2 linked regions of the Homo sapiens genome follow. The protein of the gene in region 1 purifies or fractionates together with the protein of each later gene. This does not show direct contact. Each region holds a gene or a part of one and is shown on either strand. Other genes may lie near its edges.

Region 1 (3,588 bases):
TGGGCATTTGATGAGTACATTGAGCTGGTTGGAGTGCTCAGCCCCCGCCATTTCTCCTGCAGGTCTTTAAGATGCTCAGCAATAAGGAGTCTCTGGATCAGATCATTGTGGCCACCCCAGGCCTCAGCAGTGACCCTATTGCTCTTGGTAAGTGCAGGACTGAATTTGAGGAAATAGGAGTTGTCGGAAAAGGAGAAAACAGGAGAAGACAATTCCTCTAAAGAGACTTGGACTATCTTTTGAAGAATGACTGGTCTTGTGGGAAGAGGGAGAGTAATCAAGGTGTGTTTGATATCCCCAGCCCTTTAAGAGCTCTCAGTCCCACAGAGAGATAATGGCCTAACTAACATCGTAAATAAGGGTATGAGGATGCCAAATGAGGATAGCAGTTAGCCCACATCACAGCAATCAGGGAAGGCGTCCTGCACACCCTGAGTAAGGGAAGAACCCAGAGATACGGGAGAAAGAGACAGGTGTCTTGGTACCCAGTCTGTGATGTGACTAAAGTGCAGGGGAGGTGGAGAGCAGGGGACCATCCTCACTAGACCAAGATGAGGAGTACCTGAATTGTATTGCTTGGCGCTTTGCTTCCTCTACTTCTCATGAAGATTGGCTTGTTGTCCTGTGTCCCTGTTGAGCTGGTTGCTCTGAGACGCAAAGCCTCTTCTCCCTCCTGGATCTGGCTGATTTCCTTTCTTTGAGGTGAGCTCTGCTCTTTTTCAGGGGTTCTCCAGGACAAGGACCTCTTCTCTGTCTTCGCTGATCCCAATATGCTTGATACGTAAGTGTACCTGTCCTATTAGAGGGTACCTTCTCTCTCCTCGTGCTCAGGCCAGAAGCCTAATTGTCACCCTGCAGTCTGCTCTGGGAGCCCATCCATAGTCTGTCACCAAGTCTACCCCTTAGATACGTCAGGGGGTGAGAAAGAGCAAAGCCCAAGAGCAGGGCTTTTGTCAAGAGTGCTGGGAGGAAGCAGGATTCTGAGGGAAAGGGTCTTGTCTGCCAGGCTCAGTTTAGGTTTCGTGTGGTAGAAATTAGGGAGCTTTTCAAGGATTTTAAGCTGGCAAAAGGAGAAGCAGGTGTACAGATCCGTAAAGTGTCAAAGCTAAAAGGGACATGTCCTCATTTTGCAAGTGAAGAAAACAGCCCCACCCTGGGAAGAGAAGGGACCAGTCCAGGGTTGCCTGATGTAGTAGTGGTGCCTAGACCAGACACTCCTCATGTGCTCAGGCCAGAACCCTGAGCCTCCCAGGCTGCACCTTTCCCATCATGCCTTGCCTGTGGAGAGGGTGAAGAATCTGCAGCGGACCCCAGGAATTTGAAGGCCTTGCACCCGTTGCTGGGGGCAGATCAGCAGGAGGATAAAGCTTCCTGGTGGAAGATGCTAAAGACTGAGGAATTTGAGAGCAGGCACAGGTGGCTGCATTGTTGTGAGGGGGCACCCAGAACTCCTGTTATGGCTGAGGGTGCTCTTTTGGAGTCACCCTTGGGTTTCTTCCTGCTTCTATCCTAGGTTGGTGCCTGCTCACCCAGCCCTCGTCAATGCCATTGTCCTGGTTCTGCACTCCGTAGCAGGCAGTGCCCCAATGCCTGGGACTGACTCCTCTTCCCGGAGCATGCCCTCCAGCTCATACCGGGATATGCCAGGTGAGCGCCTGAAAAGTGTAATGTGGGCCCCTCAGGAGCCGGCAGTGGCCCAGGAATTTGCTTTACTCAGCAGCTATGTATAGCGTTGGCAGAGGGCGTTCCTTGGGAACTCTCGGTTTGAGTCAGGAAGTGCATCTGTCCTGTAATTTTCCGAGGGGAGAGATGAAAATATGAATTTGGAGAGTAACTTGAGCTGAGATTCTGGAGCTGCGCCTGTGCCTTTCTGTTCTTCCTCCTGAAATCTGTTCGTCCTCCTCCAGGTGGCTTCCTGTTTGAAGGGCTCTCAGATGATGAGGATGACTTTCACCCAGTAAGTGGCCTGCCTGCCTGCCTGACATGCTGACATGTGGGGGAGATGGTGCTGGGAATGAGCTGCATCCTGGGACCTGGCACTCCCAAGGCTGGGAGATGGACATACGCCATTGGGGGGCCAAGACCATGTCATACTATTTCTGCTTTTGGATTCCTTTCTGAACCTGGGAACTTAAGAGTTTCCCCAAGAACTATTGCTGGAGGTGGGTGGAGTTCATCTGGGAGTTTCACAGTACTGCTTCCCTGATTCTGAGTGTCTTCTTTCTCCAGAACACCAGGTCCACACCCTCTAGCAGTACTCCCAGCTCCCGCCCAGCCTCCCTGGGGTACAGTGGAGCTGCTGGGCCCCGGCCCATCACCCAGAGTGAGCTGGCCACCGCCTTGGCCCTGGCCAGCACTCCGGAGAGCAGCTCTCACACACCGACTCCTGGCACCCAGGTATGAAGACGGGGCCGGGAAGATCAAGGCTGGGCCCCCAAGGAACAAGCTCCCCAGCAGTAGAGTAGATTTGCCTTTGCTGACCCTGGTGCTAGATCTAGTTTAAGCTGAACCCTGGAGTCCTGGTGGGGATTTCTTACTGCAGCTTGAGTGACCTCCCCTTCACTTGCCTTGAGGACTCAGAAGTCTAGATTTTAACATGGTCCCGTGTAGTCCCCCCTATTAGTTCAGAAGACTCTTCCTGCACACAATATGCCCTTCCTCATCCCTGACAGGGAGCAGACATCACCAGCTTAAGCATTTCTGGGTGACAAGTCACTTCAGCTTTCAAGGCCATCTCTCCCAGTGCTGCAGTGCTGGGGTCCTAGGCTGGGACAAGGGGCTCAGTGCAGAAGAGAATGGAACCTTTCCTGCCCACATAGAGAGCTTCTAGTTACCTTTGTTTGGTTGTCTTATGGCAGGTCTTTGTTGGGAGGCAGAAGTTGGGTACCTCAGGAGTGCTGTGAGGTGATATGACAACAGCGAGCATCTGCTATAAGATTGAGATGGCGCTGAGGGTGGCACTGACCACTAATTTGTCTCTAGGGTCATTCCTCAGGGACCTCACCAATGTCCTCTGGTGTCCAGTCAGGGACGCCCATCACCAATGATCTCTTCAGCCAAGCCCTACAGCATGCCCTTCAGGCCTCTGGGCAGCCCAGCCTTCAGGTCAGTCTTCCCCACGTCTTGGTTTCCATGTGGCTTCCTTGTTATTTTGGATGCCCAGCCTTTGTTTTGCTCTCTGGCGGTCCTTCACACCTGGCATGCTTCATTCTAGGAACAGCTGGAGCATGGCAGTGGGACAGGTGCAGAGTGTTCCTAGCAAGGGCACACTCTCAGACCATACACAGTGGTCACTAGGCTTCTCCTGCCCCTAGTGACCATGGCCTGACTCCCTAGACCACCTGGCTTAGATAATCATGGCCATTTCATTCATTCATTCAGTGATCATTGACTGAGCATGTGTATACTAGGCCTGAGTCCAGATGCTGGGCTAGTGGCAAGCTGGTTCTCATCCCTGCCATGGAGGGGCACCAGGCAGGCACTGAGCTGGGGAGCAACAAGGCAAGAAACCCAGCTGCTTGAAGTAAGGGCCTAGGTCAGACAAAACTTTTCTGAGAGAGGGGTATTTAAGCTGATTGTCAGAAGAAT
Region 2 (3,872 bases), on another chromosome or scaffold:
TTAATTAGTATGTGTTTTTGATACGACACCTTAGAATTCCAGTAAGAAAATAAACAATGAAAATTATGTTTTCTAGGGCAACGCTAAGTGTCCTGTTTCTAAGTTGTTGTGAGAACGAGGTAACCAAGGATATTAGAAATAGATCTAAAATAAGATAGGATCTTATTGAGACCTGTTTTTGGTCTGGTCACAGATTTGTCCTTGTTTAATTTTTACCTAGAAGGAACCAAGGAAATTAAGTAACTTACGTAGCCAGTATAGCAACTCTTGTGAGCTTGAGATGAGCATGAGCAAAAATGGAAGAAAGGACTGTGAGATAAGTGGAATCATGGGAATGATTCATTTGTTGAACAAGTAAATGTTTAGTGAGCTTTGCTGGCAGGACTGGAGGAGTACAGGGACCTGTAGAACGTGGTCTGGGGCTTCTGGGAGCCTTATTGACTTAGTCAAAGCTCATTGGCTATAGAGTAGGGGGATATACAAAATGGAAAGAGCAAGATAATTTGTTTTAAGGTGTTTTTATTTGCCCTAGTTTTAACAAAACTTTCTTAGACTTATTAGGCATTTTGTACCATTTACTTGACTATTACTGTGATACATTACATGACCACTGCCTTTAGTGTTAATCTTTGCAAAGATCTTTTTGTTTCTACAATTGTAATGCAAGCCTTCTTATAAAATATTCAAACAATATAGAAACAAAATGAGAAGGTGGTATGTGTGGGGTAGGGAGACCATTGCTAGGAGATTTTCTTCATTATGTGCTTTTTTTGTTTTTTACTGTAAAAATTGTGGGAGACTTTTAAGTAGCCTACATATTAAAGCATTTTGAGATGTGTGATAGAGCACTGCTTCTCTGAAATTCTTAAAAATTCTGAAGTTTAGGCTGGGTGTGGTGGCTCATGCCTGTAATCCCAGCACTTTGGGAGGCCGAGGTGGGCGGATCACAAGGTCAGGAGATCGAGACCATCCTGGTTAACACGGTGAAACCCCGTCTCTACTAAAAAAAATACAAAAAATTAGACGGACGTGGTGGCATGCACCTGTAGTCCCAGCTACTTGGGAGGCTGAGGCAGGAGAATCGCTTGAACCCAGGAGGCAGAGGTTGCAGTGAGCTGAGATCACTCCATTGCACTCCAGCCTGGGCGACAAAGCGAGACTCCGTCTCAAAAAAAAAAAAAAAAAATTCTGAAGTTTAATGGTGTGATGGACATTTAGAGGGAAATGGAATACAGTTTTTAAGCTCAGTTTTATAGTCAATTAGTGTTTTATATTACTGTTGCTTAAAAACATTAAGAAAGGTAGATTTAGGAATAAACCTTTTGAGATAAAAAAAATACAGTGCAGTATTTTATTGCATCACTGAAATGGTGACAAGAAAAAGTATGTGATATACAAATTAATCCTGCAGTCTAACTCTTGACACTGTTTGCCTTGAACAACTAAAAACAAAACTCAGTAAATTTGAGATGAGACTTTAAATGCAAAAGCTGAAATGTGATTGGATTAGTATATAAGTGACATTAAAATTCTACATATACATTGGATGTTTTTGCTAAGAGAATTGCAAAGACATCAGTTTTAATATCTATAAATAGCATATTAGTGTGCTGTGAAGAATTACCTAATTTCGTGGTTTACCTCTATAATGTGATTGTTATAAAATACTGCTTTACCCAGCACCTTGGGAAGCCGAGGCGGGTGGATCACCTGAGGTCAGGAGTTCCAGACCAGCCTGACCAACATGGTGAAACCTGGTCTCTACTAAAAATAGAAAATTAGCTGGGCATGGTGGTGCATGCCTGTAATCCCAGCCACTTAGGAGGCTGAGGCAGGAGAGTCGCTTGAACCTGGGAGGAGGAGGTTGCAGTGAGCTGAGATCGCACCATTGCACTCCAGCCTGGGTAACAAGAGCGAAACTCCATCTCAAAAAAAAAAAAAAAACAAAAAAACTGTGTGTGTATATTGCTTTAGTACTTGCTCTGTATTATACAGTATTTACTAGCCATCATTTATTAGTGAAGTATTCCTGTGGTGGTTTATTGTATTTTCAATATAGTCATGCTAGATACAATTTCATATTATACAAGCTTCCTAGATTAAGGTAATGAGTAGTAAATGTATTAAAAATACTATATCACAGAGGTGAAATTAAGAGTTCTTGGCATATTGGCAGAACAAGATACAGGAAGAAACTGAGAAATCTGGTACATTTTTGCCAGACTTTTGCTGTTTTGATGCCGTGCACACAGTAGGCATTTAGTAAAGATCTTTGAATGAACTGAATATATTCTTTTGGTGAACTGGCAAAGCAGTGATCCCCCAACGTAGTGTGTTTGCATGTTGATTTATTTATTTAATAAATATTTGCTGTGTACTTACTAGATGTCAGGCCCTGCTGTGATGGTATGTGCATTCTAGTGGGATAAAACTGTCAAAAAATACATTTTAAAAACCAGGTAATGGTAAGTGCTATGCAGAAAGTTGAAATAGGATAAAGTATTTGATAATACTTCACTGGGTGGCTACATTTTTGTTGTTGTTTTGTTTTGTTTTTGAGATGCAGTCTTACTCTGTAGCCCAAGCTGGAGTGCAGTGGCGCCATCTTGGCTCACTGCAGCCTTCGCCTCTGGGGCTCAAGCGATTCTCCTGCCTCAGCCTCCCAAGTAGCTGGGACTAGAGGTGTGCCCCACCACACCTGGTTAATTTTTTTGTATTTTTAGTAGAGACAGGGTTTCATCATGTTGCCCTGGGTGGTCTTGAACTCCTGAGCTCAGGAGATCTGGGTGGCTACTTTTAAATTTACTAGTCACTGAAGGCCTTTCTGAATAAGGTGACATTTAAGCTGAGAGCTGAGTAAAAATGAGCACTCGAGAATGAAGAGAATGTTTTCTATAGGGAACTGCTAGAGCAAAGACCTTTAAGAATGTGTTTTGGGTACTGAAAAAAAGCCTGCATTGCTAAGGTGATGGGTAAGAGATAAGGGTGAGTTGGGTAAGAGATAAGAGAGTGAGTTAGGCAAGTGAGTTAGGCTAGGGGTTTTCAGGGTAAACTTGGAAACATTTACAAGCAGGACAGAAATCTTTGTTTCTTTGTCTCTGTCTCTCTTTTCTCTTTTTCCCTCCCTTCCTCTCTCCCTTCCTCCCTCCCTTCTTCCCTTCCTCCCTCCCTTCCTCCCTCCTTTCCTCCCTTCTTCCCTCCCTCCCTCCCTTCCCCCTTCCCTCTCCTTTCCTCTCCTTCCCTCCTTTCCTCCCTTCCTTCCCCACTCCTTTCCCTTCCTTCCTTCCCTTCCTTTTTCAACAAGGTCTTGCTCTGTCACCCAGGATAGAGTACAGTGGCATGATCATAGCTCACTGCAGCCCCAAACTCCTGGGCTCAAGTGATCCTCCACCCTAAGCCTCCCCAGTAGCTGGGACTACGGGGGCATGCCACCACGCCCAGCTAATTTTAGTTTTTTTTTGTAGGGATGGGGTCTTGATGTTTTATCCAGGCTGGTCTCCAACTTCTAGCCTCAAGTGATCCTCCTGCCTCAGCCTCCTAAAGTGCTGGGATGACAGGCATGAGCCAGCACACCTAGCCAAGAAATATTTCTTGTAGGATTTTTAAAGGTTACTTTGATGCTGTGGGGTGGGCAAGAGTGAAAAGCAGAGACATCAGTTAGGGGGCTTGTGCAGTAGTTTTAAGTAATTGCAGCTTGAACCAGGGCAGTAGGAGTGGAGATGTAGAGAAGTAGATGGAATTAGGATATGTTTTGAGAGGTACAGTTGGCTGTACCACTTGCTGTGTCACCTCAGGCAAGTTACTCAGTATGTGCCTTTTGGTCCTCTGCTGTAAAATGAGAATACTAGTATGAAAGTACTAACTTATTGGTA

The links.
Region 2: the proteins of UBL7 (region 1) and RAD23B purify together in Homo sapiens (affinity purification with mass spectrometry; 2 studies listed by BioGRID and IntAct, with this or other methods). This does not show direct contact.

The regions. Positions count from the first base shown.
Region 1 is NC_000015.10:74,447,995-74,451,582, reverse strand, and holds part of UBL7 (ubiquitin-like protein 7), read left to right. Parts: intron 1-62; coding exon 63-147; intron 148-723; coding exon 724-781; intron 782-1,513; coding exon 1,514-1,647; intron 1,648-1,907; coding exon 1,908-1,957; intron 1,958-2,229; coding exon 2,230-2,397; intron 2,398-2,982; coding exon 2,983-3,105; intron 3,106-3,588.
Region 2 is NC_000009.12:107,285,907-107,289,778, forward strand, and holds part of RAD23B (UV excision repair protein RAD23 homolog B), read left to right. Parts: intron 1-3,872. UniProt on the Homo sapiens protein: Multiubiquitin chain receptor involved in modulation of proteasomal degradation. Binds to polyubiquitin chains.